7 linked regions of the Homo sapiens genome follow. The protein of the gene in region 4 purifies or fractionates together with the protein of the main gene of each other region. This does not show direct contact. Each region holds a gene or a part of one and is shown on either strand. Other genes may lie near its edges. The genes, in order: DDX56, PDCD11, DDX47, RRP1B, RSL1D1, MKI67 and NRAS.

Region 1 (2,802 bases), on a different chromosome or scaffold from region 4:
GCCACACTCACCCAGGTAGTCAGGAACATGGCCCAGGTGGGGCTTCACCACTGCGGGGTGCAAAGGTAGGTCATGCCGCAGCAGCTGGAGGTCCCTAGGGTTGTCTTCAAAGTATGTCTGCCGGGGGAAGAGGGAGAGCCACAGAGTGAGCATCTTTCTTCTGTGACTTCACAGACCTAGCTTTTCAAAGGATAACACACTCATGTGTTTCAAAAGGCATGAGGCAGCTGCTTCTGTGCATTTCTCAGAACCTCCCGGGAGTGGATGTTTCCATTTTCCCTTCTCCATGACACACATGGCAGTACCCTGTACCCCTTTTTGCTGGGCATCATCTTACAGACTGTTCCATATGGACACGCAACCAACCTCATTCCTTCCCATGTAACCTTCGGCTCTGAATGCACCTGAGTTTACCTAGCAAGCCCCCTATGGTGGCCCCAGGCTGTTTCCATCTTTTGGTTCCATGATAATGCCATGGATGGATGAATGCAGGCACATGCTTGACTGTGCACATTCACAAGCGTGACCAGGATTAAGTTCCAGAAGTGGAATTTCGGATGAAAGGACACATGAGCTCGTAATTCTGCTGGACAGTGTCCACCATAAGGTTGTGCCAATTTACCACCAAGCAGAACAGACTGGCTTCCTTCCATGATTCTGGGTCCATTTCCTCCCCTTCCGTGCCAAAGGCCAGAAAACTGCCCAGTTCTCTGCTTCTCACCACTCGGAGCTCAGCCAGTCTCCAAAAAGGGCAGCCGTCTAAGATCTATCCCCTTCTCACCTCCCATCCACTCACCTTAAGCTTCTCAGAATGCAGAAGCTCTTCCTTGATCTCCTTCAATCTTGCCTCCCGAATGGCCTGCTTAGTCACTGAGCGCATGGCATCCTGGGGGTGGACACTGAAGGTCAAGACAGTGAGGCTGCCCCAAATCCTCCCTTCACACCTGGATGCTCAGCAAGACGGTGCAATCCCTGGGCCACAGCCCCTCCCCTCTCATTCCCCTCCCCACCACAGCAGCTCACCCTGCAGCGATAGCGGAAGCCCTCGATCTCCTCCATCCGGAACTGGTAGGGGAGCAGAATGGGGCCCCTGTTCTCTGTGGAGAAGAAAGCAGCGAGGGTCCCACAGGCTGAGGCCTTAGGATAGGGTCTTCATTGGAGGCCTCCTGCACCTCCCCCTTGGGGGAAAGCAGCAGGGGACCCACCGCCTTCCTGGGATGCCGAACATGCAGGTTAGCTGCACCTGGGCCTCTTACAGTGATGACCCATCTGTCCCCGTGTGTGGATGGGGGTGGCCTGTGTGGCCCCAAGCCCAAGAACCCGTCACCCACTCTCTTCTCCTCTCCCAAGGAGTACCCCATGGTATTCCTTGGGAGTCAAGGTACCCCCATGACGACGGCCACAGAGAGCAGTCCAGGACCACCCAGCACCCTGGGGTCAGGTGCTGTCCTGAGCTGTCACAGCAGCCTGTCAGGTCACTCAACGCTCATGAGGCAGACAGTAAACACAACTTTGGACAAATTACCTCAATTTGTTTATCTCTCAAGGGGGACAGTGCCTGCCACTCAGGGCAGAACAAGGATGGATGGTGGAAGTGGCCTGTCACACTATGTTGTGACCTCTGTCATCATTATCATGGAGTTTTAAAGCATTGTGGAAGAAGCCTGACCCTGGCCCAGGACCACAAGAGCCAGGCTCTTACCTCCACTGAGAAGCTCCTCAATCTTGCCTAAGTGGAACTGCTCCGTGGGAAGCACAAAGGTTAAGACTATGCCTGGGTTGTTAGCGCGTGCTGTCCTGCAAGGGAAGACAGTGCAGCTTGCATCTCCAACCCGCAGGCTCTGTCCAGCACACCCCAAGTCCCTCAGTGTGCCTACCATGCAGATGCCTGGGCCGTCACACTACTACCTGCCAGCTCGATGGATGTAGGCCTCAGGGGTTGGGGGAAGATCAAAGTTGAGCACAGCAGACACATGGTGGAAGTCTATGCCCCGGGCCACACCTGCTTCCGGATCAGAGGCCCTGCAGAGATAACTCAATGTCAGCCGGACCCTTCCTCTCCTCTGGGCACGTATTCACACGCTGAATCAGCAAAACTTCCTCTAAATGCCTGTAGATCATAAGACCCTGACATACAGAGGACTCTCCAACAATGGAACCGTTCCAGGAGTCAGGGTTTCCTGGGGCAGCCTGGAGCTTTGACATGTACCCAAATCTCGGCCTGACCTCTGTTCTGGGACAACAGCAGAACTCATTGCCCTACATGGTGATCTGAAAACCAACTCTGAGCTAGTCAAGCCTTCAGCTGGACAGAGACTGGAGAGTTGGGGGGTTCCTTTTCCCTTCAGAAATATGCTCCCTGCAAGTCACAGCCATACCACCAATGCAGGATGGGCCATCTCCCCTGCAGGGCTCTGCATGCCAACAACCCCGGCAGTTTTGCCCTTCGTGGTGCATGTGCAGTGTGCACCATCCACTCCCTTCTCTATATCCAGGCAGCTGAGCAAGAACCTGTGGGGCTCTCTGGGCTACACTACCAGCCAGGCCTGGAAGGTTTGGCTCCCTGCTCTGTGCACTCTGGTTTTAGTCTTCCAAAAAGCTAAAAACACAGGCATTTCTGGGGAGGGATGGAAAAAGAGGCATGGACTCACTTGTCCCCTTTGGGCCCTCGGCCCCGACGCTTGCCCTTGACTGGGGCCCCCAGGACTTCAGCATCAGTTGCTATGACACAGTCGTAGAAGCCTTGGTTGAACTGTGAGATGATGTGGCACCTGCAGCCAAGAGCGGACAGAGAATCAGCTC
Region 2 (3,500 bases), on a different chromosome or scaffold from region 4:
AAACCAGGCTTTAAATTGATACTTAAAACCTGTACACAGCTTTTGCATTAATTTTCATATGATCCCTCCAGCCCTAGGAGAACCAAATATCCCCACTAGAGAAACAAGAAAACTTGGACAGAGAAAGGCAAAAATCAATCCTAACACTGGTAAAATCAAGATTCGAATTCGGGATTCCTAATTCCAAAGCCCAGTGCTCTTTCCGTAAGACAGTGCTGCTAATGTCCCCCTCACCTTGGCCGAACACTCAGCTCCGGGATGGTTCGAACGAATCTGGGGTGACTTATTGGGAGATACCTGGAGAAACAAATAAGCTGAATCATTTCTCTTCATCTCTGTAACACAGTAATCTGTAGGTCAGGATTTCTCCCTACTCTCCACCAAACCAAGCTCACAAAAGCACCCTGTTCCACTGTCACACCACCACTGAAGACAGATGTGTCAGGCTGAAGGTTTCCATTCCCAACCTTTGCAGTTATTAGTAAGGAGCAGGCTCATCTGAATTTTTTTTTTTTCTGGGACAAGGTCTCACTCTGTCACCCAAGCTGGAATGCAGTGGCGCAATCATGGCTCACTGTAGCCTCAATCTCCTGGGCTCAAGCAATCCTCCCAGCTCAGCCTCCCAAGTAGCTGGGACTATAGGTGTATGCCACCATGCCCAGCTAATTTTTATTTTTATTTATTTATTTTTTTTTTTGTAGAGATGGGGTCTCACCATGTTGCCCAGGCAGGTCTTGAACTCCTGGGCTCAGGTTTTCCACCTCCCTCATCGTCCCAAAGTGCTGGGATTACAGGGTTCAGCCACTACACCCAGCCTCACCTGATTTTTTTTTTTTTTTTGAAACGGAGTCTCACTCTCTTGCCCAGGCTAGAGTGCAATGGCACAATCTCAGCTCACTGCAACCTCTGCCTCCTGAGTTCAAGTGATTCTCCTGCCTCAGCTTCCCGAGTAGCTGGGACTACAGGCACTGTGCCCGGCTAATTTTTGTTTTTTCAGTAGACGGGGTTTCACCATGTTGGCCAGGCTAGTCTTGAACTCCTGATCTCAGGTGATCCACCCACCTCAGCCTCCCAAAAGTGCTGGAATTACAGGCGTGAGCCACCGTGCCTGGCCTGATCTTTTAGGATTGTCATATCAGATCCTGAAAACAATTTTCCTTACAGTCTATATACTCCAATTCTTTCATTCTAAAAATAAGGAAACTGAGGTCTTTATTTAGAGGATAATTGACTTACTGAAGACCCCACAGTTAGCTACTGAAATTAATATGCAAATTATTGGCCAGACTTTGAATTCTTTTTTTGCTGTTCTTGTTATAGCAAGAATTTCTGCTACAGTAACATGTGGCACTAGATTTAAAGTAAATGAGGATAATTAAAGTGGGAGGTGGAGAATGACAACTGCAGATGTATACAGCGCAGTAACTGAGGCCAGCAACCCACTAGGCAAAGAACAGACTACACGTTCTCTCTTTCAGTCTTCACCATGGCCCTACAAAGTAGTCGCTACCATGACTCTCACGTTACAAATTAAGAAAATAAAATTTGGACTTAAGTAGCTACTGCCACATGGTCACAGTTAATCTAGAATTCAAACCCGGGTCTGACTCCAAACCCATGTTCTTAACAACCACACCATATATTCCATATTTTTAAAAAGAATAATGCACTGTAATCCCAGCACTTTGGGAGGTGGAGGTGAGCAAATCACAAGGTCAGGAGATTGAGACCATCCTGGCTAACACAGTGAAACCCCATCTCTATTAAAAACACAAAAAGTTAGCCGGGCGTGGTGGTGGGTGCCTGTAGTCCCAGCTACTTGGGAGGCTGAGGCAGGAGAAGGGTGTGAACCCAGGAGGCAGAGCTTGCAGTGAGGCGAGATCACACCACTGCACTTCAGCCTGGGCAACAGAGTGAGACTCCGTCTCAAAAAAAAGAAAAAAAAAAGAATCTTGCAAAATAATTCTTTGGTGAATGCCTTTTGTTAACTAAAAGAGAATCTGACTTACATGCAACTTTTTGGAGCCCACCTACTTTCCCAGTCCTCCCACAACAACAACAATCTCCCTCGAAGCCAGCCCACCCCCAGAGCCTCCATACTTGAATGTCTTCATGTCTCGCCCGCCAATCACTCGGGCAGTGACCGTCTTCCCAACCTTCAGCTTGGTAGTAGGAGAGGTGCCCTCTGGAACATCATCTAGAATGTGGGAGGCATGGATACAGCCAATAATGCCATCTTCCAGAGTCACAACCACATGGGTAGGCTTAATGGACTTGACAGTCCCTGTGACCATGTCCCCGATGGAGAGGGTGTGCTTCTTTATGGTCCCTACAGTCAGAGCTGGATCCACTTCTTCATCCTCATCAACTGTCTCAGAGTCCTTCTGGGTCGGCCTCATGGTCCTCTTGGCAGCCGGCCCCTCCACAGCCAAAAGAAGGCCAGTCACTCCTGGTTCTGTGGTCTTGAGGGTTAGGGAGACACCCTGTCCCACCTGCAATTTCTCTGAGTCAAAGCGGAAGGTGTCGTTGAGGTGAGAGGTCAGGGAGAAAGCTGCCAGGTGGCCCGTCTCTACCAAGGAGGCAATGGCAAAGGACTTCTCCAAGTGCTGCACAATCGCCTGGTGTTCGCTGCCTTTCCTCAGCTAGAAGAGAGAAAAGCCACCATCCCTGCTTTCCTTACACAGCATGGTCACTCACTCATGGCCCCACTGGGCAGGGTGTGGCTGAGGAAACCCTCTGGGGTCCCAAGGCTAGGGAACTCAAGGCTGGTCTGAGCTGGAACAGACTAGCCTTCACTCCCTGGACCTAGCTTTCCTCTCCTGTACACTAAACTCATGGGGCTGCCTCTGAATTACCTTGGCTTGGTTTTTGCTTTGCTTTGAATTTAAATTGCAAGACCCTATCCTAGATCTAGTAAATCTGAATTTTACAAGTTATTGAGATAATTCTGATGCACAGCCTTGCAACCTCTAACAGCTCTCTCAGCTTAGAGACACTGTGGTTCCTGAATCTGTCCTGCAGCTCCCCCACCCCCAATTAATCACTCTTCAACCCAAGCAATGAATAGAGTCATTACTGAGAGCTTATTGTGTGCAAGGCACCTAGCCTCTCTTTCCTCAAAATCCAAATTGTGCTCATGCTCTTATATGCCCAAGCTTCCCTTAGGTGATAAAATGGTACAGGGTCCTGCTAGAAAACTGAATGAGAGGTTAGTATTGCTTTCCATTCTCTCTCTGTCCTAAACTCTTAATACTGTAAGCAACTGGAAATTAAGGATTATATCTACACTGCACCATACTCTGTGCAACTAGGTGCCTAATAAGTGCTTTAGACAATAACCAAATATATTCATCACCCAGAGAAAAATAATAATTTTTCCCTCAAACCCATTCTTATGTCACACAAAAGTGTCCAGAAGACAAGGCAGGCGAGGGTGTGGACGCACAGCTTGGAGGTCTGAACTGCCCACAGACATGCTGTTTGGCTCATGGGATGTTTTT
Region 3 (3,500 bases), on a different chromosome or scaffold from region 4:
GCCTCTCCCTCTTCTTTTCACCAAAGCATCTGAAAATGTGTCAACTCTTGATTAGGTAAGAGCTGTAATGCAGATTGGCATCCTGTCTGTTTGCTTTAGAGTGCATATCGTGCTTATATTATCACCGATAAGCCAGACATGCCAGGAATTCACAACACATTAAATCACAATACTGAGGTCATGATGTAATCATATAATTCCTTCCCATCCCCATCCTTGAGGTAATTTTTCCTTTGTCTGCTTATTATGTGGCTTTTATTTAGGATGAAGCCCCTGGTTTTGTGCTTTGATATAAGGACTTCTCCTGTTTGCTGAGTACAGATCTCCTGCCTGCCTTAAGGCTAAGTGGGGAATATGTGGTTCACAGAGATGATAATGCTGGTTAAGGAATGCAAAGCTGGCAGCTGGAGGTCTGGATAATTGAAAAGCGACTATAGGCTTAGTCTTTACCTTATGTATATGCCAGGTCTCCAATCCTGTCTCCCAGGTTCAATGACATATATTGTTTTGGGTTTGTAACTTAGGATACCTACCTGGTTTATATTCTAAATGAATTGGCTGGAAACTCCTTTATGATATTCTGCAGCACCTGTAATAATACCCAGAGAACAGCTTTGCTACTGCGAAATCTTGGCTTCACTGCCATCCCCCTCCATGGACAAATGAGTCAGGTAAGGATTCATCATCATCATCAGCCATGCACTGGTGGCGTGAGCGAGATAAACCTCCTAACAGTAGGTTTGTACAATAAGGCCATAGGGCACCGATGCCTGTTTCCATAATTGTTGTAATTTTATGGGCTTTGAAGTGTTGCTCTAGATACTTACTTTCTCCTTTCAGGGTAGCGAGAGGCTCCCATTAGAATATTTCATATGTACCTGTCTGGTTTGCAAGCTGTTGAGTTGATTTATTCAGCCCTAGTGGTAATAATGACTCTGGCCTCTAAAAACATTAATAAATTATTTCCCAGTTACCTTTCTATCGTGTCAAACTACCCTTATTTTGTATCATATATATTTTTTTAATTTTTTGTTGCTTCCATATTTCTGTTTTGACCTGTGAAGCCCCATTCAAAACTTAGGGGGAAAAACCTTTAAAAAATTTATGTCTGTTTGTTCTCGTGTTTGTCTATTTTGTGTTTTGTATTCCAAAACATAGGTTAAGTTTTCCAACATTTCTTTTTCATTACCTCAGAGTAAGCGCCTAGGATCCCTTAATAAGTTTAAGGCCAAGGCCCGTTCCATTCTTCTAGCAACTGACGTTGCCAGCCGAGGTTTGGACATACCTCATGTAGATGTGGTTGTCAACTTTGACATTCCTACCCATTCCAAGGTGAGTCCTATTGCTAACTTACCTTTCTAGTCCTAAAGTGTATTTCTTAATGGACTGTCTTCTGTCTTTCCTTAGTTACAGCAGTTATTTTGTTCCTGGTTAATTAAGTATCAAAAAACAAGAAAGCCCTTGGTTAGTTCATTCACATCATCTTGCACAGGCCTGTGTATGTAACATTAGTACATATGAAAGAGGTAGCCAAGGAGAGTTATTAGATGCTCATAGAAGGGGCTGGTGCGCCACATACTGATCTTGTCACTGTCATTTCTTGAGAATGACAGCTTGTAGTTTTTTTGAGGCGGAGTCTCGCTCTGAGTTTTCTGAGGTGGAGTCTGCACCCAGTCTGGAGTGCAGTGGCGCAATCTTGGCTCACTGCATGCTCTGCCTCCTGGGTTCACGCCATTCTCCTGCCTCAGCCTCCCGAGTAGCTGGGACTACAGGCGCCCACCACCACGCCCGGCTAGTATTTTTAGTAGAGATGGGGTTTCACCGTGTTAGTCAGGACGGTCTTGATCTCCTGACCTCGTGATCTGCCCACCTCGGCCTCCCAAAGTGCTGGGATTACAGGCGTGAGCCACCGTGCCCGGCCTACAGCTTGTAGTGCTTAGTGTATCTCAAGGTTTCTCAGCCTTGGCACTATTAACATTTTAAGCTTTCGAATTCCTTGTTGTGGGGGTTGTTCTTTGAGTTGAAGGATTCCTAGTAGCATTCCTGGCCTTTACCCAGTAGATAACAGCATCACACAGTCTTCCACCTGTGATAATCAGAAATATTTCCAGACATTACCAGTGTCCCTTGAGGATGGCAGAATCACCCCTGGATGAGAACTGTTGTGTCTCTTGTCTTTGTATTTAACTGCTGTAGACAAGATGCTGTCTCATTTGATTTTCATAACAACTCTGTAATATGGGCATGTATTTCTATTCCTGTTCACTAGATAGAAACCAAGGTTCAGAGAGGTTATGTGATTTGCAGGTAATTGTGTAACTGGCAGATGGGAAGGATCAGAGCTGTAATCCAGCTCTGCCTCGAGATCCAGTGCTGTTTTTTAAAATACCATGCAGCCTGCGACCATGTAGATATGCTTTGTAGATTTATCTGTCTGTGAAAGAAGGGAAAGCATTGGATCAATTTTGTGCTGCAAGGAGAACAAAAAAGATGAAGTAGATTTGTCTCAACAAATTGCCCCGGCCATTTATTTTCTCCATGTTACGAAATGAATCTATTTTCTTTCAAAGGTTTTGCAGCAGGACTTTGCATATGTAGTTTTTTTTAAACTTATAATCCATATAACTTGAATTTATTTACCCTTTTTGTTTTAGGATTACATCCATCGAGTAGGTCGAACAGCTAGAGCTGGGCGCTCCGGAAAGGCTATTACTTTTGTCACACAGTAAGTAAATCAGCTTTAGGGCCGAGCAATGTAGAGAAAAGAGCAGAACTTTCAAGCCACTGGCTGAGAACCTGACACTACCATTTACTACACTAATCACTTTCATACTGAAAACCAGGATGAAGGAGTTGAAAGATGGGAATAATAATACCTATCTAGCAGGGTTTTGGTGAAAATTGGAGATTATATATGTAAAAGATCTAGTATAGTATTTGGCATGTAGAATGGTACCTAGAGCTGGAGAGCAATTGCCTTTGTGTCAACTCAGAAAGTATTAGAATAACTATTTCCAATTGTTTTTTTTAAAGAAACAAATTTTTATGTACCCAAGGCTGTTCTGTGAATAAATACCTTGAGGGATTTTCTCCCTCCCTCCTTTCCTTTTTTTTTTTGTATTTGTCTCGCTCTGTCGCCTAGGCTGGAGTGCAGTGGTGCAGTCTTGGCTAAGTGCACCTTCCACCCCCTGGGCTCAAGCAATCCTCCTACCTCACCATAGCTTCCCAAGTAGCTGGGACCACAGGTGCATGCCAGCACACCTGGCTTTTTAAAAAATATTTTTAGTAGAGATAGGGTTTTGTCATGTTGGCCAGGCTGGTCTTGAACTCCTGAGCTCAAGCGATCCACCTGCCTTAGCCTCTCATAGTGCTGGGATTACAGGCACAAGCCACCTGCCTGGCCGATTTTTGTTTCTTTTTCTTTTTTTAAGCAGCAAGGTTTCACTCTGTTGACCAGGCTGGAGTGCAGTGACTTGATCATAGCTCACTGCAGCTTCAAA
Region 4 (3,500 bases):
AGACTGAAGCTTTGGGCTCTGCTAATGCTTTATGACGGCACGAGCTCAAGTCTCCGAGGCCTCCATGGTGCATGCCGCTCCCCAAGGGCTGAGTCGTGCCCTTCTTTTTAGCTTTACAGCTTACCTTTCTCCTTTTCCAAGTTAGTTTTCTCTAAAAGTTTATTTCCTTTCTTCTTATGCTTTCCTTGACTGAGGATTTGGTCATCTTCATCAGCAGAAATGTCCTCCGCAAAACTGAGTTGAGATATACTGCTTCCTAGATGCCAGAGTGACACACTGTTAGCTTCCCCAGGCGCTCAAGACTCTGCCCCAGGGGCCTAAGAGCAGCACCCCTCCCAATTTCTGCCTCATCATCATCGTTCCTCACCGTTTCTCCCACCCAAACCTGAGCGCTGCTGACACAGGAATTACAGACTTAAAAAAGCTTTGTGGATTTCTCAACCAAGGCAAGGCAAGGGATCACAAGCCCTCGGTGACACCCTCCATGGCTGGACCCCGGACGCTTGGCTAATGCAGTCTCTGCATTCCAACCAGCTTGCTGGTGCCTTTCCCAATTCCAAGTGTCCCTAGTGAATGACGGGTATGGGGTAACTTCACTGACTTGTCCAAATGTAACAAAGCTTACAGCATCAGCCTTTCCCGGGGGGACCATTGACCATAAGAGCAAATGAAAGGGATCCTGAGAAATTACATTTTTTACCTTCATAGAGTATCCAATTAAAACCTTCCTAGGCCATTGAAAATCCATCTAGTTAAAATAATAAAAACCAAACCAAAACATCGCAGTACCCACACATGAGAGCAGTCTGCCCTCTTGCTTTGGTGGTTAGGGAGAGCCCAGGATAGGAAGGTGGGCAGGCTGCAGGGAGCCCTAGGCTTGCATCACTTCCCACGCTGTACTGCGGTATGACTAGGTAAGGGCTGGTCTGTCTTTCTTAAAAGTTGGGGTCTTGTTGTGTCACCCAGGCTGGAGTGCAGTGGTGTGATTACAACTTACTGCATCCTGGACCTCCTGGGCTCAAGCGATCCTCCCCTCTTAGACTCCCAAGTGACTGGGACTACAGGATCACGCCACCACGCCTGGCTAATTTTTTCATTTTTAGTAGAGATGTGGCCTTGCTATTTTGCCTGGGCTAGGGACTATTATTTCTTATCAGAGGTTTTCAGTAAAGTTCTTTCAATCTTGTTTCTCAGCGTTTGGCATCAACGCCCCCAGTGGGGTCCATATTCACGAAAAACACCATGAATGATGATTCTTGGCGCGCCTCACCTTCAGAAAGGTCTTGGAATCTAAAAATAAAAAAATAAAAAATAAAAAATAAAAAAATAACAAATGTTCATAAAGAAATCCCTTCTGTCTTCTGTAGACATATGTATTTGATTTTTAAAATACAAGCCATAGTTAAATAGTTGTTAATTCACGTTCTCCTCCAGGAGGGGAGGCTAGACAGGAAATTCTGTGAGGGAAGGGTGGTGCAATACAAAAGCCAAAAAGCTCAAGGCCAGTGCCGCCCTCGGTTACCATCAATACCAGCAAGGACACGGCGGGCCAAAGATGCATCTTGGCACACCCAAATCAAACTAAGAAATTCAATTTTTGTTTCTGAAGGCAGAAATAGCTTAGATCTCTCTCATATTCAATTCTCCAGTGGAGAAAGGCGAAGCCATGTTTTGCTTCACACAATTTTTGTGCATTAGAACAAACAAGACGCATCGAAGCGCAGTGTGGGGAGGTGCATGGGGGAGGAGACACTGGATGGCAGGGACCTCAGGCAAGCTAGGACCATCCTGTGCCCTAAGAACCAGCTGGGAAATGGGCAAAACTACAGGAGCTACTTTCTGGGGGCTTAACATGGAATACTTGAATGTATACAAAGTGCTCAGAGCAGTGCCCGGCTCCTAGAGTGTGATCAGACAGTTGTTGTCACCAATGACAGCAAGCCACACGAGGCCCTCCATGAATTCCAGGTCATCATGTCACTATGGTCAGAGTGACATCAACACTGACAGCTGAATTAACTAACACTTTTGGCATAGCCATATGGGAGGGAGGGGAGAGGTAAAGAATTAACCCTATCTATCTCAGCAGCACACCAGCAGAAGACACCTAAATAGCAGATTCACATCAGTTTCTGGTTGGTTCATTTTAGACATGAATAGACTTCACATCATTCTAAAGCAGCTAAGAGATGAGTATGGCTGCACTGGAAGAATGGAACCTGAGGGGTGGGACTGCTGTTTCCATTAAGCTTTTCAGTTTACATGTGTCTATTACATTGCTATACACAAAAGCATTAAAGGACAAAAAAAGAAGAAAGAAAAAAGATAAGCATGCAGATGGCTTGTCCCACACCAGGAGATGAGAACTAAAGGAATGATGATGTCAGAACCCTCTCCCCAGTTACTGACTTCTTGATGAGTTTGGAGAGGCGCTTCCTGTTGAAGTGGGGCGTGTTCTTCCTGCTGGTCATTTCCAGGAGTCGATCAGCAACAGCCTTATAGTCAAACTAGGCAGGAAGAGAAACTAAACATAAGTCTGCAGCCAAACAACACTGCCTGACTTGGCCATTTACATCTGCTAGTAAGAGAAACCCTTACTGAAGCATTTGGCAACAGATAGGCTAAACAAGCTTGTGCTGGGACTTGGCAACCAGGAGCACAAGCACTACCTTTGAAAAATGCATGTTCAGGCCGGGCGCGGTGGCTCATGCCTGTAATCCCAGCACTTTGGGAGGCTGAGGCGGGTGGATCACAAGGTCAGGACATCGAGACCATCCTGGCTAACACGGCAAAACCCCGTCTCTACTAAAAATACAAAATATTAGCCGGGCGTGATGGCGGGCGCCTGTAGTCCCAGCTACTCGGGAGGCTGAGGCAGGAGAATGGCGTGAACTCAGGAGGCAGAGCTTGCAGTGAGCCGAGATCGAGCCACCGCACTCCAGCCTGGGAGACAGAGTGCGACTCTGTCTCAAAAAAAAAAAAAATTATTCTTGGGAAAAGCTGGGTAAGCAATTCTTAAAAAAAAAAAATTGTGATAGAGTACCCACAACAAAATTTACCTGGGTGTGCTTTTTTTTTTTTTTTTTTGAGCCAGAGTCTGTCACCCAGGCTGGAGTGCAGTGGCATGATCTCAGTTCACTGCAACCTCCACCTCCCGGGTTCAAATGATTTTCCTGCCTCAGCCTCCCGAGTAGCTGGGATTACAGGCGTGCGCCACGGTGTCGGGCTAATTTTTGTATTTTTAGTAGAGACGGGTTTCACTGTGTTGGCCAGGCTGGTCTCGAACTCTTGACCTCAGGTGATCTGCCCGCCTGGGCCTCCCAAAGTGCTGGGATTACAGGCGTGAGCTTGTAATTAAATTTTAAATTTAATCTAGATTTGCAATCTGTACTTGGCAAACTTTTTTTTATTTGAAAAGTGCCACTAGAGCTGGCTCTGTGGTAGAGAACAGAGGAGAGCTTAGCCATTCAAAATAAGTGCTACTATCTCTTTCAAAACTC
Region 5 (3,500 bases), on a different chromosome or scaffold from region 4:
CATTTTACCTCATGTAAAGTGACAAAAGCACAACCACCACAAAACCAGAAGATAACTGAAAAGTCGGGCAGCGATGATGGTCTACTTCTCTCCTAGTGACTGAATTTACACCCTTCATTATTCATTCTGTAAGTATTTAAAATTCTACTAACTTTTTTCTTCTTATTAAGCAAAGATCTTTTGGTGGCTTCATCCCAATTGCTGACAAACGAGGAAAAGATGGGAAGTGCAGCCGATTTCTCAGTTTTCACAAACAGGAGTTTCACGCTCTCCCACTTCTGAAACAAAGAAAAGAGTAACATCGTCTACATATACTTTGTTTCTTTTAAATGAACAATCAATTGATGCACCTGTAATACTGTACCTCTGGCAATTTTTCTGAAAGTCCTTTGGTGACAGCAACAATGTTTTCAATGATGTGCTCAATTTGCATTCCAACGTGACCAATACGTATAGCACTGAAATTTAATATAGTATTAGACAAGATTTTAAAAAACCATTTTTCAAAATAAACCAGGCAGGTATATGAGAAATATAAATACATAATCCTCAAGTTTTTCTTTTTCTTTTAAAAAGGTAGAAATATTAATCCCGGGCAACATGGCAAAATCCTGTCTCTACCACACTAACAAAAATTAACTGGGCATGGTGGTACATGCCTGTAATCCCAGTTACTCAGGAGGCTGAGGCAGAAAAATCACCTGAGCCCAGGAGCTCAAGGCTACATACAGTGAGCCCAGATCTGGCGACTGCACTCCAGCCTGGGTAACAGGGAAAAACACAGTCTGAAAAAAAAAACAAAACAAAAAAACAAACAAAAAAATCCCATTAAAATCTTTAGGTTCTAAATATATTTTATTTCATTTTTGAGACAGGGTTTTCCTGTCGCCCAGGCTGAAATGCAGTGGCACAATCAACGTACTGGGCTTAAGTAATCCTTCCAACTCAGCCTCCGGAGTAGCTGGGACTACAGGTCACCCAGCTGATTTTTGTATTTTTTGTAGAGATGGGTTCTCACTCCTGAGCTCAAGTGATCCACCAGGCTGGTATGGAACTCCTGGGCTCAAGTGATCCTCCTGCCTCAACCTCCCAAAGTGCTGGGATTATACACATGAGTCACCACACCCAGCCTAAATATGTTTTAAAGGAAGATTATCATCTTTCATGTACTAGAAATTCCTTCTACCTAAAGTAAAATGTCACATCATGAAGGGGTGACTTTTTTTTTTTTTGAGATGGAGTTTGCTCTGTCGCCCAGGCTGAAGTGCAGTGACGTGATCTCGGCCCACTGCAACCTTCGCCTCCTGGGTTCAAGCAATTCTCCTGCCTCAGCCTCCCTAGTAGCTGAGATTACAGGCGCATGCCACCACGCCCAGCTAATTTTTTTTTTTTTTTTTTGAGATGCAGTTTCACTCGTTGCCCAGGCTGGAGTGCAATGGCGTGATCTTGGCTCACTGCAACCCCCACCTCCTGGGTTCAAGCGATTCTCCTGCCTCAGCCTCCCGAGTAGCTGGGATTACAGGAATGCGCCACCACGCCCGGCTAATTTTTTGTATTTTTTTTTTTTTTTTTAGTAGAGACGGGGTTTCTCCATGTTGGTCAGGCTGGTCTCAAACTCCCGACCTCAGGTGATCCGCCTGCCTCGGCCTCTCAAAGTGCTGGGATTACAGGCGTGAACCACTGCGCCCGGCCTAATTTGTGTATTTTTAGTAGAGATGGGGTTTCACTGTGTTGGCCAGACTGGTCTCAAACACCTGCCCTCAACTGATCCACCTGCCACGGTCTCCCAAAGTGCTGGGATTACAAGCGTGAGCCACCATGCCCAGCCGAGGCAGTGATTAAAGAGCTGGTAGCACCTGACTGTGAGGTTAGGCGCATTGGGAGGCAGGGCCAGAGGAGGTTCTACCTTTATCTTAGACAACCCCATGTCGCTGAGTCCGCCTTCAAGCTGTTCTAAAGGGACCTACCTCCAGGAGGGTCACCTGCTCTCTCTATAGTTCTACTGCTCTACCCAGCCGCCATGTTCAAGAATAAATAGTTCTGTGGCTGGGCGTGGTGGCTCACGCCTGTAATCCCAGCACGTTGGGAGGCCAAGGTGGGCAGATCACGAGGTCAGGAGACCGAGACCATCCTGGTTAACATGGTAAAACACCGTCTCTACTAAAAAAATACAAAAAAATTAGCTGGGCATTGTGGTGGGCGCCTATAGTCCCAGCTACTTGGGAGGCTGAGGCAGAAGAATGGTGTGAACCCGGCAGGCGGAGCTTGCAGTGAGCTGAGATCAAGCCACTGCACTCTAGCCTGGGCGACAGAGCAAGAACTCTGTCTCAAAAAAAAAAAAAAAAAAAAAAAAGAGTAAATAGTTCTTGTCCCTGGTGGAATAGTGTCTTTCAGCTACGAGCAAGACCATCCCTTCAGGTGAAACAGAGTGCAGGCAGAAGCCCAGTGGGAAGCCTGGAGGGCTCAGCGCTGGGGCCAGAAGGAAGTGAGCCAGAAGGAAGGCTCACTGTCGGCACAGTGTCTGCGGAATGAGGAATGAGACGGACTGTTGCTCCTCTCTCTCTTCAGCCAAAGACTGGGCACTGCCCACTCCCTGTGCCTGTCACCACCTGCCTGCAAGCACACCTGAGCATCCCAGATGGAAAGATGGTGGGGGGGAAGAAGGGAGAGGAACAGAAGTGGAAGAGGAAAATAAATTCTTTTGCTGGGGAAAGGTAAGAGAGGAAATAAAGAATGATTTCTTTTTTTCTCAATTGTCTGCAACTTTCTTTAAGCTGTTGCTTTTGCCTTGGAAAATCCCCAGTGGCAGGAGACTGCTGCTCCTTTACCTGCCTTCATGGTACCATCTTCTTCTCCCAGATACTCATGGGTCCCATAAACAAGGCCTGAACTTCTAGCCAACCACTTCCATGAGCCACTACTTTGACATTAGCCTTTAACCAAAGGGGTAGGGGTCTAGGCTCCGTGACCAACTCTTCTAGGCTACTTCATTACACCTGATGAAGGGATTCCCAGCAGCAGGCTAAAGACAACACCAGAGACCACCTGTCCTGCCCACCAGTACCCTGCTCTGCTCTACCTGGAGACACTCCCCTGGGGTCAGGCCTCCCTGGTGAGCAGAGGCAAGAAGTCTGTGTTGTTTTCTGCCGACTGTGTCCACTGGGTCTGCACGGCTCCTGGGGAATCTCTGGGTGGAAGGGCAGTGGCCTACAGCTCTGCCTTACTGGCAGCTAGCCATCTCCACACCGCAGTCAGCAAGTGCAGTACTTCATAAAATGTATTTTCAATACATTTAAAACCTGCCCTACCTCCCCAAGCTGATACACTGCCAATAATACAAACTTAAGTCACTTCTCAGCCTAATAAAATAGCCTGAACCGCATCCTTTGCTCAGCCAGAGGTTGGAAGCAATCACTGCCCTAAAACATCTGTTCTAGTAGGTAAGACTAGGTGTGGGGGCTCCGCCTAGCTCAGTATCCAGGGTAAGGTTAAACCAATAT
Region 6 (3,500 bases), on a different chromosome or scaffold from region 4:
GAAGGGGCAACAAGAATGCAAGTGCTAAATGTCTAGCCTGTCAGAAATGGAGGAGGTGTCATTTAACATGTCAACGACAGACAGATGCCTAACTTTCCCTTGGTGACTGATGGTATGCTATGCTTAGGAGAGACTCTAGATATGAGAAAATTGCCTGTTCAGCTGTCAACTCAGTTCTCAGTAGTTAGATAGCATGTGCTATTTCATACTGGTTATTGGAGCTGATATGATTTATATATTTGTATCATAATACTAGTATCATAAGACTTGCAAGTTTTAGGCATTAAATAATTTGTAGGCCAAGTAAAAGCTAGCTTATAAGACAACCTGAAACAATTAAAATATTGAATTCCACAAATGTTAATCATTGAGAAAATGCTGAACTTCTGTTTCTTATTTCATAATTCATTGCCAAGATGAGAAAGCTCAAGATTCCAAGGCCTATTCAAAAATCACTGAAGGAAAAGTTTCAGGAAATCCTCAGGTACATATCAAGAATGTCAAAGAAGACAGTACCGCAGATGACTCAAAAGACAGTGTTGCTCAGGGAACAACTAATGTTCATTCCTCAGAACATGCTGGACGTAATGGCAGAAATGCAGCTGATCCCATTTCTGGGGATTTTAAAGAAATTTCCAGCGTTAAATTAGTGAGCCGTTATGGAGAATTGAAGTCTGTTCCCACTACACAATGTCTTGACAATAGCAAAAAAAATGAATCTCCCTTTTGGAAGCTTTATGAGTCAGTGAAGAAAGAGTTGGATGTAAAATCACAAAAAGAAAATGTCCTACAGTATTGTAGAAAATCTGGATTACAAACTGATTACGCAACAGAGAAAGAAAGTGCTGATGGTTTACAGGGGGAGACCCAACTGTTGGTCTCGCGTAAGTCAAGACCAAAATCTGGTGGGAGCGGCCACGCTGTGGCAGAGCCTGCTTCACCTGAACAAGAGCTTGACCAGAACAAGGGGAAGGGAAGAGACGTGGAGTCTGTTCAGACTCCCAGCAAGGCTGTGGGCGCCAGCTTTCCTCTCTATGAGCCGGCTAAAATGAAGACCCCTGTACAATATTCACAGCAACAAAATTCTCCACAAAAACATAAGAACAAAGACCTGTATACTACTGGTAGAAGAGAATCTGTGAATCTGGGTAAAAGTGAAGGCTTCAAGGCTGGTGATAAAACTCTTACTCCCAGGAAGCTTTCAACTAGAAATCGAACACCAGCTAAAGTTGAAGATGCAGCTGACTCTGCCACTAAGCCAGAAAATCTCTCTTCCAAAACCAGAGGAAGTATTCCTACAGATGTGGAAGTTCTGCCTACGGAAACTGAAATTCACAATGAGCCATTTTTAACTCTGTGGCTCACTCAAGTTGAGAGGAAGATCCAAAAGGATTCCCTCAGCAAGCCTGAGAAATTGGGCACTACAGCTGGACAGATGTGCTCTGGGTTACCTGGTCTTAGTTCAGTTGATATCAACAACTTTGGTGATTCCATTAGTAAGTTTATTTAATTGTAAATTTATTTTTCTAAAAGATGAACACCTTCTATGTAGCTGTGAGACCTTCATTCTTTCAGTAGTGATTAGCTTTGTGGAAGAGAATGTAAGCACATAAGGCACAGGGATAAGACAGACACGCACGCTGTTTTCGCTAATAGATGAATACTGAAGGCCTAGGTAATTGTAACAAGGAATGACAGAAGAGATGGAAGTTGTCAGGCAATCATGAAGCAGGGGTTATTGAAGGAGATAGGGTGGCCCCAAAAATATTTGATTCTCCTCCATCTATCACAAAATAGAAAAGAGAATAATCATAATTGCTTTTCACATGGAGTTTAATTCTGAACTACAATCAACTGTATCATATGAGTTTGGTCATGTGGAATAAATCACTGGTAATCATTAAACATAGCGGTAGTTCTCAGGTGTTGATACTCTGTTTTCAGAGTGTCCTACAAACAATTTGCTGTAAACACTGGACTGTACCCATGAGTCCATATGCCACATGAACACTTGATCCTTGGTGCAATAGCAGTGCCCGTGGCTAGGTTGTCTTTTTAGAGCTATGTCACACATGAGGAAACGCACAACCCAAGGCCAGTCAGGAAGTGGCAGAGGTAGGACCTTTATAGCAGGTGTGGTAGCTCCTCGGGAGCTTCCTACACTCCTAGGGACTGGCTATTAGAAGAAAAGTTGTCTGGGCCACAGACGCAGTATTCGTACTCCAGGCTGTGTTTCTGCAGGTGGCCTATAGCGGTGGGGCATGAGGCTGTCGATAAAATAAGGTTTGTAACATCAGTCTCAGTATTCCACCAAGCTTCCTAGTGGGGAAGCATCACTTAGGCAAGGGATTTACATTAACTGGTGGCTCAGGAAAATGTGTGGCCGGGACTGGGCTCCTGTGAATTGACTCAGAACCACCTGGAGGAGTTTTTACAGCTCATGCATTCTGGTCACTGGGTGGCTCAGGCTGAGACCCAAGTGCATGTCTTTAGAGAGTTCTCTGGCTGTCGTCCCCCTACTCTAAGGTGAAATCTGCTGCTGCAGACTCCTCCTTTCTATGTCCACACATAATGTTTCAATGTTTTAAAGAAAGCCTCTGTACTGTCCAGTGGCAACTTGACGTCTTAGTGGCCACTCCCGCAATCCTTTAGGAACTCTTAGTAGCTTAGCTTCACCAGGATTGCAAGAATAGAGGCGTGCTGTAGGTACTGTGTTTCGATGACTTTTCACTTGGTTTGTCTTTAATGCTAACGTGAAATAAATCACTAGTCTTGGTATGTTTTTTCATTGCTCTTTCCACATTTGTATCCGTTACTTTAGATGAGAGTGAGGGAATACCTTTGAAAAGAAGGCGTGTGTCCTTTGGTGGGCACCTAAGACCTGAACTATTTGATGAAAACTTGCCTCCTAATACGCCTCTCAAAAGGGGAGAAGCCCCAACCAAAAGAAAGTCTCTGGTAATGCACACTCCACCTGTCCTGAAGAAAATCATCAAGGTGAGTTGAACAAGCAGCATCCCATTCACGCCCAGTGGCTCACACACCGGGTACCTATTCCTTTCCAAATACTGACACAAGTAGAATTATGATGAAGACCTTTATTTATTTATTAAAGAAACAAGTTTTTAAAAAGACGAATGAAAGCTCATTGATGTGGGCACCAGCAAAGGAGCCCCTGGGTCCCTGACCGTGGTGCTGATGCGACCGAGTCGGGGGAGTCCTTGATGTTGTCCTTTTCGTGCAGAAGTTCCCAGACACCCACGCTTACAGCACTGCGTAATCACCTGCAGGCACCGTCAGAATAGCCAATTACAAAGATTCTGGATACATTACCACGTCGACCCATAAGGATTGTTTTATTTTCTTTTAGAGTTACAAGGCTATAGTTAAGGCATTTACCTGGTGTGAAGGAAAATCAATGGCACATCTTCCTTTTACACCTTCAGCTCTTTAGAATATTTGCTTGCCTGTTCCTTTGCTGTGTTGTCCTTCCTGGGTTT
Region 7 (2,803 bases), on a different chromosome or scaffold from region 4:
TCAAGAAAAAAAAGTGAAAAAAAATTTTGATGTCTTTGGTAGAGTAAACCAAGGTCTCCAAAATTAGTATTCCAGTGTTAGTTGAAAATGCCTAGGTTTGATATTATTCTTTTTAAAGTCTCCTTAAGGTTGGGAAATCTGATATATCCTAATTCAACTCTTCTATTTTGCAATTGAAGAAACTGGGCCGGCGTAGTAAAATTATATCGGGCCTCAAGTTCTCCAGCCCCTAGCATCAATGCTCCTCCACCTATACCAAGATGGCTAGATTGTGCAGTAATGCAAAAACGAGACAAAAGAGCTCCAATGGCATCTTAATGTATGCAAATCTGACAAATAGCTATGAATCATCCCCAAGGTAATACTTTAAAGCAGGCTTTGATATATTTGATGTTATGATGAAATGAGGAACTCAGATATTCCAACACTTCCAAATGTCACATCCAAAAGTTTGAAATTAATATTAGCATTCTATAAAGGCACTTCAGTGAATATAAGAATTATGACTAAGCCAAGAACTTCCAGTTTTTATTTTTTAAACATCATTTAACAAGAAAAAACATTCAACCAAATTAAAAAGAACTAGGTTGGATTAATTTACAATAAAATAATCAACTTAAAATATCGGCCCTTCCATTTAGGGCCAAGGAGGCCAATAGTTCCTGTTTAAACAGCAGAATTGCACAATTATTTTTACCTATATTTGATGGCACAAAAAAATAAAAGTCTTACAACTTCCACGGACATCCTCCCCTCCCTCCAGAGCAGAGTTCATACAATTCCATCTTAGGTCAGTACTCAGGCTTTTAAAAATCATCTTACGTTTTGAAATATAATACAACTACTCTGGTAACAAGAATACTTTTAAAACAATTCTTATAGAAAACAAATACCTTAGATAATTGTGTGGCACATTAGACTGCTCAAAGAAACAGCAAAGATGAAAAATAATGTACAAGAATTATAGTCCCTTGTTTATAGAAACCATCCAAATAAAATATTTTCCCTAATTTTCCTTGCTTCTTATAATTTATTAGCAGAGATGAATTACAAGAAGCAGAACGCACCATTTTTTGGTTCTTGGTTGTAGCTGCCAACTTAGGAGTTCATGACTATAAATATAAAGCAAATATGATTATGCTCACAAGCTCTGGAATGGTAAAAAAACCCCACATATCTCTAAAGTGTTTCTCTATCCTTGCTTTCAAGTCATGACAAAAAAATTCACAGCAGTTTAAAGGATGGTGAAAGACTAAACATGGGCCCACTAAAATAGAGATTAATTTTACCTATTACACTCCTATAGTAAAAATTGTAATAAGTATGATATTGTATTAAGTAACATTCTATAGTAAGCCGTTGGAGCAAATACAGCATTTAACAGGTTCATTTACAGATCCGGCATGGTAGCCTTCAGACAGAACATCTTATTTTCACTCTTGAACATGTAACCTTTAAAAAAACCAAAAGGAATATGTAATTTATGACAGCTGGCCAGGCACTTAATTTGGGGAAAGAGAAGGATTTTGAGGTAAACTAGAATTCTTTTCAGCAATCACAAACATAGCCTAAAAACCACGTTTTATACCACACTGAAGTTATTCAGCTTTTAACTATAAGTTTGTCACTCCTTTGTGCCAAAATTCACACCTAGGTGTAACTTTTTTTTTGGAGACAAGTCTCTCTTGTCACCCAGGCTGGAGTGCAGTGGCACGATCTCTGCTCACTGTAACCTCCACCTCCTGGGTTGAAGTGATTCTCCTGCCTCAGCCTCTCAAGTAGCTGGGACTACAGGCACGGGCCACCATGCCCGGCTAATTGTAACTTCTTAAGGTATTCAAAGAACATACTCAAGTCTGAATTTTGGCCCCATTTAGAAACTTCTGTGCTTAGAACATACTTGGAAAACTCTAAGTACATACATACAAGGGCTATTGGCACAAGAGCCCAAGATGAGTAACTATCTTTCTCCCTAATTTGACATCAAATTTAATAGATTTTTAAGAAAAAGAATCACTGCCAGTCACAGACATTTAAAAAAGAAATGACTGAGGTGATAAGCCTCAGGAAAATTACAGAGTAGCACTGCTCCAGAAGGAGCAGAAACAGAAAAGCAGAATTTCCATTTACAAATGATGACAGTACTGTGAAAGCTCCCAGAATTAGCAGTAAGAAGCACAACTCTGCAGGTTCATTATACTCTGGACACAGTATATGTTTCTTCTCTTCTGAATTTCAAGGTAATATGACATTTGCTTAATAAATGAAAATTCATAATATAGAAGATGGAGGACCTCAGTAAGTATTTAGATATTAAAGACAGGAACAAAGTGGCCATTTTGGAATTAGTCTTTTATCAAAAGTTATCCAAGTCTATTTTTCATGAGAATTACCAGGGTATTATCTGCAAATTAAAATGCCAAGCCTCCAAATCCTCATAGGTATCAATTAATTATATTTTCCATTCCTGTCTCAACAATTTCAACTTCCTGTTTTGAGCAAACTCATCAGCTTAGATTTATCAACATCTTGTTTTAAACCCTTCAAAGAACATTATGAATAAAGAGAATTTAAAACGTTTCTCAGCTGAGACATCCTCATTCTCAAATGAGAATATTGGCTTAATTTAGAGTTTCTACATGGCTAAAAGAAAAAAAAATGTTTAAATACGTGATACTGAGTTTTCCAGTCATGGTAAAGGGTTTGTGCTAACTGACCTCTTCTTTCCTTGCAGGGCTAACTGCAGCTACCTAGCAAAATTACTAGCTGGAGTTACTGGTGCAATGAGCAAATGCAGAAGAAT

The links.
Region 1: the proteins of RRP1B (region 4) and DDX56 purify together in Homo sapiens (affinity purification with mass spectrometry; 2 studies listed by BioGRID and IntAct, with this or other methods). This does not show direct contact.
Region 2: the proteins of RRP1B (region 4) and PDCD11 purify together in Homo sapiens (co-immunoprecipitation; one large-scale study listed by IntAct). This does not show direct contact.
Region 3: the proteins of RRP1B (region 4) and DDX47 purify together in Homo sapiens (co-immunoprecipitation; 2 studies listed by IntAct, with this or other methods). This does not show direct contact.
Region 5: the proteins of RRP1B (region 4) and RSL1D1 purify together in Homo sapiens (affinity purification with mass spectrometry; 2 studies listed by BioGRID and IntAct, with this or other methods). This does not show direct contact.
Region 6: the proteins of RRP1B (region 4) and MKI67 purify together in Homo sapiens (co-immunoprecipitation; 2 studies listed by IntAct, with this or other methods). This does not show direct contact.
Region 7: the proteins of RRP1B (region 4) and NRAS purify together in Homo sapiens (co-immunoprecipitation; one large-scale study listed by IntAct). This does not show direct contact.

What each region holds. Positions count from the first base shown.
Region 1 is NC_000007.14:44,568,107-44,570,908, forward strand, and holds part of DDX56 (probable ATP-dependent RNA helicase DDX56), read right to left. Parts: intron 2,772-2,802; coding exon 2,652-2,771; intron 2,023-2,651; coding exon 1,909-2,022; intron 1,798-1,908; coding exon 1,703-1,797; intron 1,098-1,702; coding exon 1,024-1,097; intron 887-1,023; coding exon 797-886; intron 118-796; coding exon 12-117; intron 1-11. UniProt on the Homo sapiens protein: Nucleolar RNA helicase that plays a role in various biological processes including innate immunity, ribosome biogenesis or nucleolus organization. Plays an essential role in maintaining nucleolar integrity in planarian stem cells.
Region 2 is NC_000010.11:103,424,126-103,427,625, reverse strand, and holds part of PDCD11 (protein RRP5 homolog), read right to left. Parts: intron 2,643-3,500; coding exon 2,101-2,642; intron 298-2,100; coding exon 235-297; intron 1-234. UniProt on the Homo sapiens protein: Essential for the generation of mature 18S rRNA, specifically necessary for cleavages at sites A0, 1 and 2 of the 47S precursor. Directly interacts with U3 snoRNA. Involved in the biogenesis of rRNA.
Region 3 is NC_000012.12:12,823,346-12,826,845, forward strand, and holds part of DDX47 (probable ATP-dependent RNA helicase DDX47), read left to right. Parts: intron 1-524; coding exon 525-671; intron 672-1,194; coding exon 1,195-1,332; intron 1,333-2,654; coding exon 2,655-2,725; intron 2,726-3,500. UniProt on the Homo sapiens protein: Required for efficient ribosome biogenesis. May have a role in mRNA splicing. Involved in apoptosis.
Region 4 is NC_000021.9:43,683,560-43,687,059, reverse strand, and holds part of RRP1B (ribosomal RNA processing protein 1 homolog B), read right to left. Parts: intron 2,508-3,500; coding exon 2,410-2,507; intron 1,291-2,409; coding exon 1,271-1,290; intron 257-1,270; coding exon 125-256; intron 1-124. UniProt on the Homo sapiens protein: Positively regulates DNA damage-induced apoptosis by acting as a transcriptional coactivator of proapoptotic target genes of the transcriptional activator E2F1.
Region 5 is NC_000016.10:11,841,543-11,845,042, forward strand, and holds part of RSL1D1 (ribosomal L1 domain-containing protein 1), read right to left. Parts: intron 459-3,500; coding exon 365-458; intron 279-364; coding exon 153-278; intron 1-152. UniProt on the Homo sapiens protein: Regulates cellular senescence through inhibition of PTEN translation. Acts as a pro-apoptotic regulator in response to DNA damage.
Region 6 is NC_000010.11:128,112,924-128,116,423, reverse strand, and holds part of MKI67 (proliferation marker protein Ki-67), read left to right. Parts: intron 1-416; coding exon 417-1,496; intron 1,497-2,821; coding exon 2,822-2,997; intron 2,998-3,500. UniProt on the Homo sapiens protein: Protein that associates with the surface of mitotic chromosomes and acts both as a chromosome repellent during early mitosis and chromosome attractant during late mitosis.
Region 7 is NC_000001.11:114,703,969-114,706,771, forward strand, and holds the end of NRAS (GTPase NRas), read right to left. Parts: 3' UTR 501-2,803; downstream 1-500. UniProt on the Homo sapiens protein: Ras proteins bind GDP/GTP and possess intrinsic GTPase activity.